2 separate regions of the Homo sapiens genome follow, and region 2 is linked to region 1. The links come from fine-mapping of genetic effects on gene expression. Tissue or cell type: pancreas. Region 1 holds a variant in brackets; the other region holds the start of a gene. All regions are shown on one strand. Distances are between the middles of the regions.

Region 1 (5,208 bases):
CCTGTAACTTAGGCTTTTAAAATGTAATTTTAATCTTTCACATCTTCAGAGGTGCCCGATGATTATCAGTGGCATTCAATTTTTGAATGGAACAAAGATGCACTCATTTGAAAGCATTTCATTCCTCTGTAATCCTGAAAGCTAACCCATCGTTCCCACCCACAGCCTGTATACACACTGCTCCTCCTGTATTCCCATCTCTGCATTGACAGCCCCATCCTCCAAGGCACCCAAATGAAAATTTCAACCTTTTCTTTGCCTCACTTGGTGGACACCAAGTCCTGTATAATCCACCTCCTAAGAATCTCTAGAAACTGCCCCGTTTTTCGTCCCCTTTGGCCATCAGGAGTCCTATCTTTTCTTGCCTGGACAATGTAATCATTCCAATCAATCAAATCTAAGTGGATTTATCTGCTTCTTTGAATCTACTTCCTCCTCACAATTATCTACTTTCCCATCCTGTTACCAAAAAGACTTTTCCAAAATGAAATATAATCACATTATGGCCCTGCTTTAAAGCATTGAGTATGTCTTCATTGTCTTCAATATGGAGGAAAAACTCTTTCACAGCCCAGCCTCTACCTTTCTCCGGAGCTTCCTCTCCTACTGTGTTTCCATGCATGCTTCACTGCAGACACCCTGACTGCCTGTGGTATCCTGAACATCCCTTGCCCTCTTACAGGTTTTGTCATGCTAGCCTCCTGCCTAGATTGCCCTTCCCCACATTCCCTCCTGTATTCATCTCCTGTTGCTGCTGACACAAATCACTGCAAGCTTAGTGGCTTAAAACAGCACTTACGGCCAGGCGCTGTGGCTCATGCCTGTAATCCTAGCACTTTGGGAGGCTGAGGCAGGTGGATCATGAGGTCAGAAGATCAAGACCATCCTGGCTAACAAGGTGAAACCCCGTCTCTACTAGAAGTGCAAGAAATCAGCAGGGCGTGGTGGCGGGCGCCTGTAGTCCCAGCGACTCAGGAGGCTGAGGCAGGAGAATGGAGATCACACCACTGCACTCCAGCCTGGGCGACAGAGCGAGACTCCATCTCAAAAAAAAAAAAAAAAAAAAAAAAAACCCAGCAACTCACTTATTTTCTTACCATCTACAGGCCAGAAACCAGAAATCAGTTTCACTCAGCTAAAGTCAAGGTGTTCCAAGGCCAGCTCCTTCTGGCTGCTCTGGGGGAGAATCTATTTCCTTGCCTTTCCTACCTTCTGGAGACCACGGGCATTCCAGGGCTGGTGACCCCTTCCTCTGACCTCCTGCTTCCATTGTCACCTCTTCCACTGTCTGCTTCTCTGTTAGCAGGATTATCTCCTTTTTATAAGAACATTTATGTTTACAGAGAAGCCCACCCAGATAATCCAGAACACTCTGTCTCAAGATCTTAATTTAATCACATTTGCAAAATCCCTTTTGCGATATAAGATAACATTCACAGGCTCTAATGATTAGTCCCTGCTTATTTTCGGGAGCCATTATTCTGCCTAGCATACCTATCTTTTTCTACCTCAGCCTTTCAGATGCAGCTTAAACATTTCTTCTTTTCTGGGAAATTTTCTAACATCCTATTCCCTCCCCAATCCCATTACTTCCTCCAGCAATTCCCACTGAGTACCTCACTAATACAACTGTCTGGGTTTGCTTGGGACTAAGGGGGTTCCCAGAACACAAGACTTTCAGTGTTAAAACCAGAAAACTGCCAGACAAACCAGGATGAGTTAGTTACCCTAAGTCCTCACCTTTCTTTCCACATCACCCTCTTTGTAGCACTCAGCACGTGGGATTGTAAGTTAGAATTCTCAGTTCTCTTGCCTTTCTCCTCTGCAAGGCTATGGGTGGGAATGTTTCTTTTGTGTTTCTGATGCTCATGCCTTCGTTTCTGGCATGTGGCAGATGCTCCGTAAAGTGAATGGAGTTTGTGGAGCAGCCCTGCAACAGCAGACAATCTAGGCAAAGTGGAAATTTTCCGCCCTGTGACTAGAACAAAAAACCAAAATGAAACAGAACATTAAACACCGGTATGATGTGCTATGTTCTCTTGGGCACTTTTTTCTTTGATTTTCTCATCTATACTTGCAAATTTGAGTAAAATTAGACACAGTTCTTTGCAAGAACCCAAATATTCGCAGTCCTTGACAGAACACACTGTCTTCAAACAAACAGAGGCTCTACTATTTATAGCTGATTGCTTCACCGCTTGTCTTGCCTGTTTTTTAGAATGCCCTTTGCCACGAACAAAGCAGATTGAAAATAGATGTGGGGCCAGGTTCTGGGAGTCTTCTAACATTTCTTTATTCTCTTAAACACTGATAAAATTGACCCATTCTTGGAATTTGCCTCCTGAATGCTGCAGCAGCTGGAGCACCAGACATGTGACTCTCTTTGATATCACTTCTGTCTGTGTGCCCTCCAGCCAACTTTGTTTACCTCTACAAAAGTGCCCTTGAACAAAGGTGCCCTGCAACTTAGAGTTAATGGAAAAGCAACTGA[G/A]GTAAACATTAAAAAGTGAGACTCAGACAAAGACATCATTTAACCAGAGCCATCGATTCCACAGTCCCAGTTCAGAGAAAAATCATTTCTATTGTTGAGTAGGGAATAAATTTATGCCCAAAAGCCAAGTGTGCCTATAATGCTTATGAACAACCACATGAATGGAAACCCTGGACAGAATGAGGGACCAGAAGGAATTAAATTCACATCTTCTGTCGCCCACATTTAAAAAGAGAGAAACTAGGAAATTGAAACCTATTTATGTTATGCATCTGCAAAAACAGAAGCTGTGTAAGAAGTTACTCCTAATGAATGAGAAAATAAAACGTGAAACTTTAAAATGAGAATCAATTATATTTTATCAGTATATTTCCAGATCTTTAATAATGAGCTATGCCTTCCATACAGAATTGAATCACATCAATCAAAGTGAAGAACTCAGCACAAAAGCAATTAGAGGGAAATATTTGGAAGACTACAAAAACATAGTGTTGTAGATAAAAGTAAATATATTATTTTGGTTTGGAAAAATATTTCAAACTCTACTTAAGGTTTATAAATCCTTTCTGTAATTCATGATAAAGGGGGAAGCTCTTGATTATTATCCTCAAGACATACACATATCATGTCTACGTGAATGAATCTGAAAACTGTCTGAATGAGGATAACTCCAGAGGTCACGACAGATGAATGACTCATCTACCCAAATGCAGCCACCAGAGCCCTGATTTGAACCCTGGGCATACAGCTTTTTAAACACACCCCAGCATTTGCCTGCAAATGTGTCCTCACAGCTATAATTTCACTTCCAAACTCACTAAAGAGTCATCTATCAATGCACTACTGACTGGTTTTTACACATACTGAGTTGCAAAGCAGTATTTTAAAACCAGCTATGTAAGAAAACCCATATTTCCCTAGCTTTATGTGCTCTAGAGCTATAAGGACATAAAGCTAATGGAAATAAGAAGGAAAAGCAAACGTCCCCTTCCTCCTTCCATCGGATCTGGCTTTCTGGTCACCGTGTTTTATCAGATTAAAATGTAAAATGAGACTAGTAAAGCTGATTTAAATAATCTCTCTCTATCTAACCATGAGAAAAATTGGAAGGCCCAACTAAGGTCGTGTTAAATGTTAACCTCTGCCAGGAATTGAGGCTGAAGTTTCACCAGCAGAACAGGAAGTTGCATTCTATAACTGCAGTCAACTTGCCTCTATTGTCTTTACAGAGCACCAGATAACGTTAAAAATTCAAAATTGCTAAAACACCACAAATAACTTCTTTCTCTGTCTTCATGACATATTTTATGTTTTCTTTTTATTTTTTGTCTTTCTGACCCTCTAACTAAGTTGATATTTTACTTCTCGAGTCCCTAAGACCTTACTTTATAGCTTCAGAATTTTAGAGTCAGAAGGGGTCATAATCTAAGGTTCCTGAGAAGGCTATAACCTTAGGGGGTGAAAAAGAGAGAAAATATATTTAAATAAGTTTTGTTATCTGATAAACTTACTGACTTGTTTTCCCTTTTATCACAGACTGGATAGAACTTTGTCTAAAATGAACACTGATCCACAGACTATAGCTTGGGAACCCCTGATCTAATTTCATCCCCTAACTGTCAGCTAAAGAAATTAAAACTCAGGGTCACTTGGCCAAGATCACAGAGTTCATTGCTTTTGAAGGGAGCCAGGCTTTAGACACTCAAGTCTCTTGACTGTGTAGTGTGTATTCTATCATACAGGCACCACCCCCCGCCAACTCCCTACCCACAAATAAAGCTAATGCTACCATTTTTATATACCACTCATGGTAATCTGCAAAATTAAGTGAAATTATAATGTATTTTAAGCCAAACATATAATTTGATTATAAAAATTAAGACTTTATTCTAGACCTATAATTATAAAATTAAAATTATAATTCCATAATTTTATAAATTCTCATGTTCACAAACAATGTAACAATGTCATGCAATGGAATAATTTCATCCAAATTGCAGATGATGCCAAATTAATGCTTTACAACTATTTTATTATGAAGTTAATTAAAAAGCATTATATAAAACTATGTGGACATAATTATCTCAAAAATGAAAAGGAATATTAAAATATATGTCTAGTTAAAAGATTTAAAGATAATATTCCAAAATAACAATGGTTATGTCTGATAGTAATATTCTGGATACTTTTTTTCTTTTGAATGTTTCTATAATTTCACTCTTTTTAAAAATATTCATCTTTTCTTTTGTAATGATAAGAATCGACTACATTTTTAAGTCCAAAGAATAAAAATAAATCCAATATCGTGTTTGTGTATGTTATGCCAACATGCTTTTTTTTTTTTTTAAGTAACACAGACGTGTTCATTCAAATAAGTTGACATTTTCATCTTGGTTAGCTGGTTTGATGAAAGTCCAAATCACATGCCAATGAGTAAACTCACTAGCCCATATGACCCAGCTCTGAAAAAGAAAGGCATATAATTTTGTTTCACAAACATTGAGAAGCAGCAACTTTTGGGGTGGGAGGGGTGCTAGAAACATCCTTTGACCAACATTTATGTGAAATGCATGTGCCAGAAATTATAATGACAGAAAAAGGAATTTGATGTCAAACATTTTAGTAAATTACAATATGTACTCTAGAAACACTTCCACTAGAAGGAAAACATCCATTTGACTGAATGTGTAATTTCTATTTTTATAATACAATGTAGG
Region 2 (5,109 bases), 63 kb after region 1:
TGTGATAAATAATGCCCCTTTTCCCAGTCTATATATGATGAATGGTGCTAGGCTTCCGATTAGCTTTAATTCCAAACTTCTTTATGACAGATTAGTGGTGTTACCAAAATATCAGAGTCATGTCTGAACCTTGACTCAAGGGAAAAAAATAATTACCTGTGGAGCTGAAAACACTGAAATAGTTGGTTACACTTTACTAAGTAAAATATAATTAGAAATGTTCAAATAAACTGGAAGTGAGTTTAATAAAGTTGTCCACCAAAGTAGTGACATTGAACACTTACTTTTTATTATATGGGAATTTTCATGTAATTCAGGAAAAAGACCTTAAGGCTCTTTATTTGTTTCCATGTGTCCTCTTAGTGTGTATAATTTAAGATCACAAATTACTCTTTGCATTCTAGTTTGACAACTAAACTTTTTTTACTTTCCACTCACAAGATTTATAGGGAATTTGTGCATTTTGACCTTTTGATTCTAACAACCAATCATTAGCCAATCAAGAATGGAAACTTTGGAAATATTACAGATAGAGCCACTGTGATTTAAATCATTTAACATGTTAATTCTGACAGAAAATCCTACTCAGAAAAAACAACCAGCAGCAGCATGTTTGAGTGCAAACAGCAAGAAACATCCCAAAACATGACCTCCCCGATAGTCAGAATGACGCAGCATCCATTTCCTACTTTACAGAATTGCCTCCCATTATAAATCACTTTATCTTCTCAACTCCAAAGCATCCCAGACACATTCTTTACCCGTGAATTCACAAGCCTTTTCTCTGAGAGAGGCCTTGGGACTAGGAACTTTTTGAATGAGTGTAGAAGTCGGGAAGGAGACAATAGTGTCAACTTGGGATTGCCTAAGGCAACAACAGAGCAAAACAAGAACGCTTTGGTTCTCTGGGTCTCTGTCCCTGATTGCATAGCGGGTCATTGTTGGGAAATATTTCCTCACCTGGCATTCCAAGAAATGGAGAGCTCCACAGCTGTATATAGTCCTGTCATTAAATACAGGAGTGTTCTATCCCGCTGGAATTAAGAAAATTGGTAGAACCAGATTGTGGTCTGAAATCTTTTTTCAGAAATGCTGCCATCGTGTGGCACTGCGGAGCTATGACCAGAAGAGTCCTGTAAAGGGTCGTATGGTTCATCTCAAGATGGCTGGGCTCCAGCATAATCTATTCCTATAATTAATTCTAGCTTCATATTGAATCATTCCCGTGGGCACAGAGTAAACTACAGTAAATCCTGTGGAAATTTTGTTGTTTTTAGAATTTTCAGACTTCCCTCCACTAAATTGACAACATGACACGCTTATGCGGGTATGTTTAAAGGAAAAAAATAGTTTTTAGAAGCAGAAAAAAGAAGTCTATTTTGCAACTTTATAATCTGTGTGCTTTCTATTTTATAGAGATAGTCGTCATCTTACTTATTAAAATGGGTGCTTATTACCTACAAACCAATCATATCAATTCATCTGGAATACATCCAATTTAAGGGAGACATATTTCCCCCTACCAAATGTTCATGAAACCTATGAATTAGCTATACACTATCACTGCAAGACATTATTTAATCTATATTTATATTAAAAGTAATATTTGGCAAAAGGAAGCTGACACTTTAGGACTAATAAAAACCACAATTACTTTTGCAGCAACCTAATAATAAATAGGACCATTTATTTTTCATCTCAATTACACACAAGTCTTAACAATAAAGGTGTAAGGTAAATAAATAGTGCAATCTGCATTTCACAACTGAGAAAGCAAATGAAGATAAGTAATCTCAAGGCAATATTAAATATTTTAAAAGGACCCAGAGCTCTGCTATCCCTGAATTCTGCTCTAATATTCGGACTTTCCCTGTAATTTTCTTTCATTCAGACACCTTTTAAATACCTAGTAAAGTGTTTTTTAATACAGAAATTTTTAAAAATGTTTTTCTTTTTAAGTGGCCTACTTTACATACCTTGGGAGAAAAACTAGAAAAAAAGATGATTCCAAAATCGAATCTGTTCCTTTAGAAATGTGCAAAATTTCCTTATTGATGCATACAATTTAAAGATCTTACGTCTACTCTCATTTTAATAACCTGTTCTTTTAAAGGACATTACAATTCGTGACTGCCTGCCCCTCTTAAAAATTTCATAATAGTTAACACACATATAGTCCTTAAGATACGCAGAGCATTTGCATCTAATATGTGCTAAGCATTGCTAGTTTAACATACTAATTCATTTAAACCCCTCAAAAACCCCATGACCTAGGTAATAGTATTGCATTTCATGGATGAGGGAACAAGGATAGGTAGGCTGGGCGATTTGCCCAAGGTTGCACAGGTCAGCAGTGACACAGCGGAATTCAGAACCACGGTCTGGCTCCTGAAGCAGCCCTCTCAAGCAGTCATCCTGCTCTCAGTCAGAAACTGCTTTACTTCTGCAACATCTAGAATAAATTACCATTCTTCTATTTCATATAGAATTTTATATTTTAATGTCACTAGTGCCATTTGTCTAAGTAACAAGCTACTGCATACTCGAAATCACAAAGCTAAGCTTGAGTAGTAAAGGACAGAGGCAAGTTTTCTGAACTCCTTGCAGGCTTGAACAATAGCCTTCTGGCTCTTCAATAAGTACAATCATACAGGCAAGAGTGGTTGCAGATATTACCTTTATGTTACTTAAACCGAAAGAAACAAAAATCCATTCTATTTAATTTTACATTAATGTTTTTCCCTACTTTCTCCCTTTTTCATGGGATCCCTAAGTGCTCTTCCTGGATGCTGAATGCCCATCCCGTAAATGAAAAAGCTAGTTAATGATATTGTACATAAGTAATGTTTTAACTGTAGATTGTGTGTGTGCGTTTTTGTTTTTTTTTGTTTTAACCACAAAACCAGAGGGGGAAGTGTGGGAGCAGGTGGGCTGGGCAGTGGCAGAAAACCTCATGACACAATCTCTCCGCCTCCCTGTGTTGGTGGAGGATGTCTGCAGCAGCATTTAAATTCTGGGAGGGCTTGGTTGTCAGCAGCAGCAGGAGGAGGCAGAGCACAGCATCGTCGGGACCAGACTCGTCTCAGGCCAGTTGCAGCCTTCTCAGCCAAACGCCGACCAAGGTACAGCTTCAGTTTGCTACTGGGTTGTGCATTCAGCTGAATTTCATGGGGAAGTCCAAATTCTAAGGAAAAATATTTTTAATTGTAATGCTGTTAAACAGACTTAAATTTTCTAGCCTTTTTAATAAGCAGATTAGATACATTGCAGGTCTCCTGGAACAAAGGTGTCTAGATATTTTGAATGCCAATCAAATTTAAAACTTAAAAATACTTCCACTGGGTCCTCAAAAGAACGGAAACCACCGATGCTAATCAGAAAATAGTAAAATTAAATTCCCCTTTGGAATAATTATACCTATATAATTTTCAGTGGGTGACTGTGCAGGAATTTAAAAGAAAAGGGATCTTTTATGCTAATTAAACCAATTACAATGCTATTTTTTAAATGATGTATCTCACTTTTAAGGGGAAGAAAACCCTTTCTGAATATGCCACTGCTAAATTTAGCTGTTAAAATATTCACCAAGATACCTGTATGACACTGTGTAGGCTTATTATTACAAATAGAAAAGCTGTTGGCTATTTTCAATGTTTTCCTTTGAATTTCAAATTTTTAGAACATCTTACTTAAATAACAAATTTCAGAGATAGTTTGATTTCACCTAAGTAGCACCTACTTGATAATTAAGCTAAAAGTCACATTTAAAGTACATGTTGGAAAAATGGATAAAGCAAATTTTTTTCATTTTTTTCTGTGAGTTTTTTCTTCTCTAAAAAATATTCCCATACTAGCTTATTAATATAATTAAGTTACTGTTGATCTGTTTGTAGGTTTAGAGAGCTAGATATATAAGGTAGTAATGGTATAATTTCTGGAACTCTAAATTTTAAAGTTGAATAAATACAGACTTGCAAAATTTCCCTTTCCCTTGCCTAATAGTGAAAGATGGATAATAGGTGGCAATATAAATATTAACTTGAAAGACTATAATACTAAAAAGAAAAGGCATCTCTAAGAAGTAGAAAAGATTCTATAGAAAATATATTTTATTTGTGATCATTTTGTAATGTGGTAGTATAAAAAGGTATCACTGTTGTAACCTATGAAGATGTCAGCTATTCCTTATGAAATATTTTGCAGGAAAACTCACTACCATGAGAATTGCAGTGATTTGCTTTTGCCTCCTAGGCATCACCTGTGCCATACCAGTGAGTACAGTTGCATCTTAAAGAAAATTCCTGAAAATAACTGAATTGTGTGCTTCCATGTGCTAGGAGGACATTCTTGTAATCTTTCTTCATCTTTTCTGTTTCTAAGGTTAAACAGGCTGATTCTGGAAGTTCTGAGGAAAAGCAGGTAAGCATCTTTTATGTTTTTATATAGTTAAATCATTTACTCAATTATGGCGAGAGGTGCAAGAAACGTATTTGCTGCGATATTACTTATCTTCTCAGTCAAATCCATTGGTTTACAAGTATTGATTGACTGCCTGCTATGAATCTAGGCCAGTACCAAGCACAGTATAGTTTTTAATAAATATAAGTTTATAAAACCAACCCAGATATTTTAAATATAATAATATCTAGGCATGTATGATGAGTTATCGCATGTAAGATAAGTTATATGAAGTTGTGTGACTTTTTTTCCATTAGTCCACATACTGATCTAAAAGCAGAAAATTCCAGCTTTTGCTTTGTTTAGTGGATTGCTAAGTTTAAAATTCACATTGGATATTAGTCAGAACTGTTTGTATGACCATAATATTCACAATATTGTCTGAGATATTAGCTGAGAAGCCCATTGTGAAAAGAAAGTCTATGTGTGCTGTTTGTATCTATTGTGATTGTCAGCTGATGTTAGATCACATTTTCTAACCAAACATAAGACCAACCAAACTCTTTATTATAATTATTTGACCAGCACTAAAGATGTACCTACCCCTCCACAACAGATGAAACTGTGCCAGCCAAACAACAAATGGGCATTGTCCCCAGAAGCTTGGACAAAAAGGCACACAGAGTTCAATTCCAGTTGAACAGAATAAAG

Which allele goes with the higher level. Alleles are on the strand shown, and positions count from the first base shown. SD is a standard deviation of normalised expression in the study named.
In carriers of allele A in region 1, the expression in pancreas of the gene that starts at base 3,036 in region 2 tends to be lower than with G alone (small effect, 0.29 SD a copy in GTEx).

What was found. PIP is the estimated chance that this variant, and not a neighbour inherited with it, causes the effect.
Region 2: SPP1 starts here. The variant in region 1 is fine-mapped to the expression of SPP1 in pancreas (GTEx, PIP above 0.99).

Annotation. Positions count from the first base shown.
Region 1 is chr4:87,909,156-87,914,363 of GRCh38, forward strand. No RefSeq gene overlaps it. Among named protein-coding and RNA genes, the nearest start is that of SPP1, 64 kb to the right of the region's middle. The variant G/A (reference allele first, on the strand shown) is at 2,492.
Region 2 is chr4:87,972,679-87,977,787 of GRCh38, forward strand. SPP1 (secreted phosphoprotein 1) reads left to right here and starts at 3,036. Exons shown (of 7, transcript NM_001040058.2): 1 at 3,036-3,122; 2 at 4,204-4,271; 3 at 4,381-4,419. The coding sequence starts at 4,218. LOC124900730 (a long non-coding RNA gene) reads right to left here and starts at 1,091. Exons shown (of 2, transcript XR_007058172.1): 1 at 961-1,091. RefSeq lists promoters at 790-3,032, 2,032-3,119, 2,909-3,122, cis regulatory regions at 2,042-2,051, 2,267-2,275, 2,342-2,350, 2,788-2,803, 2,978-2,987 and 1 more and enhancers at 2,294-2,314, 2,677-3,176, 2,939-3,009.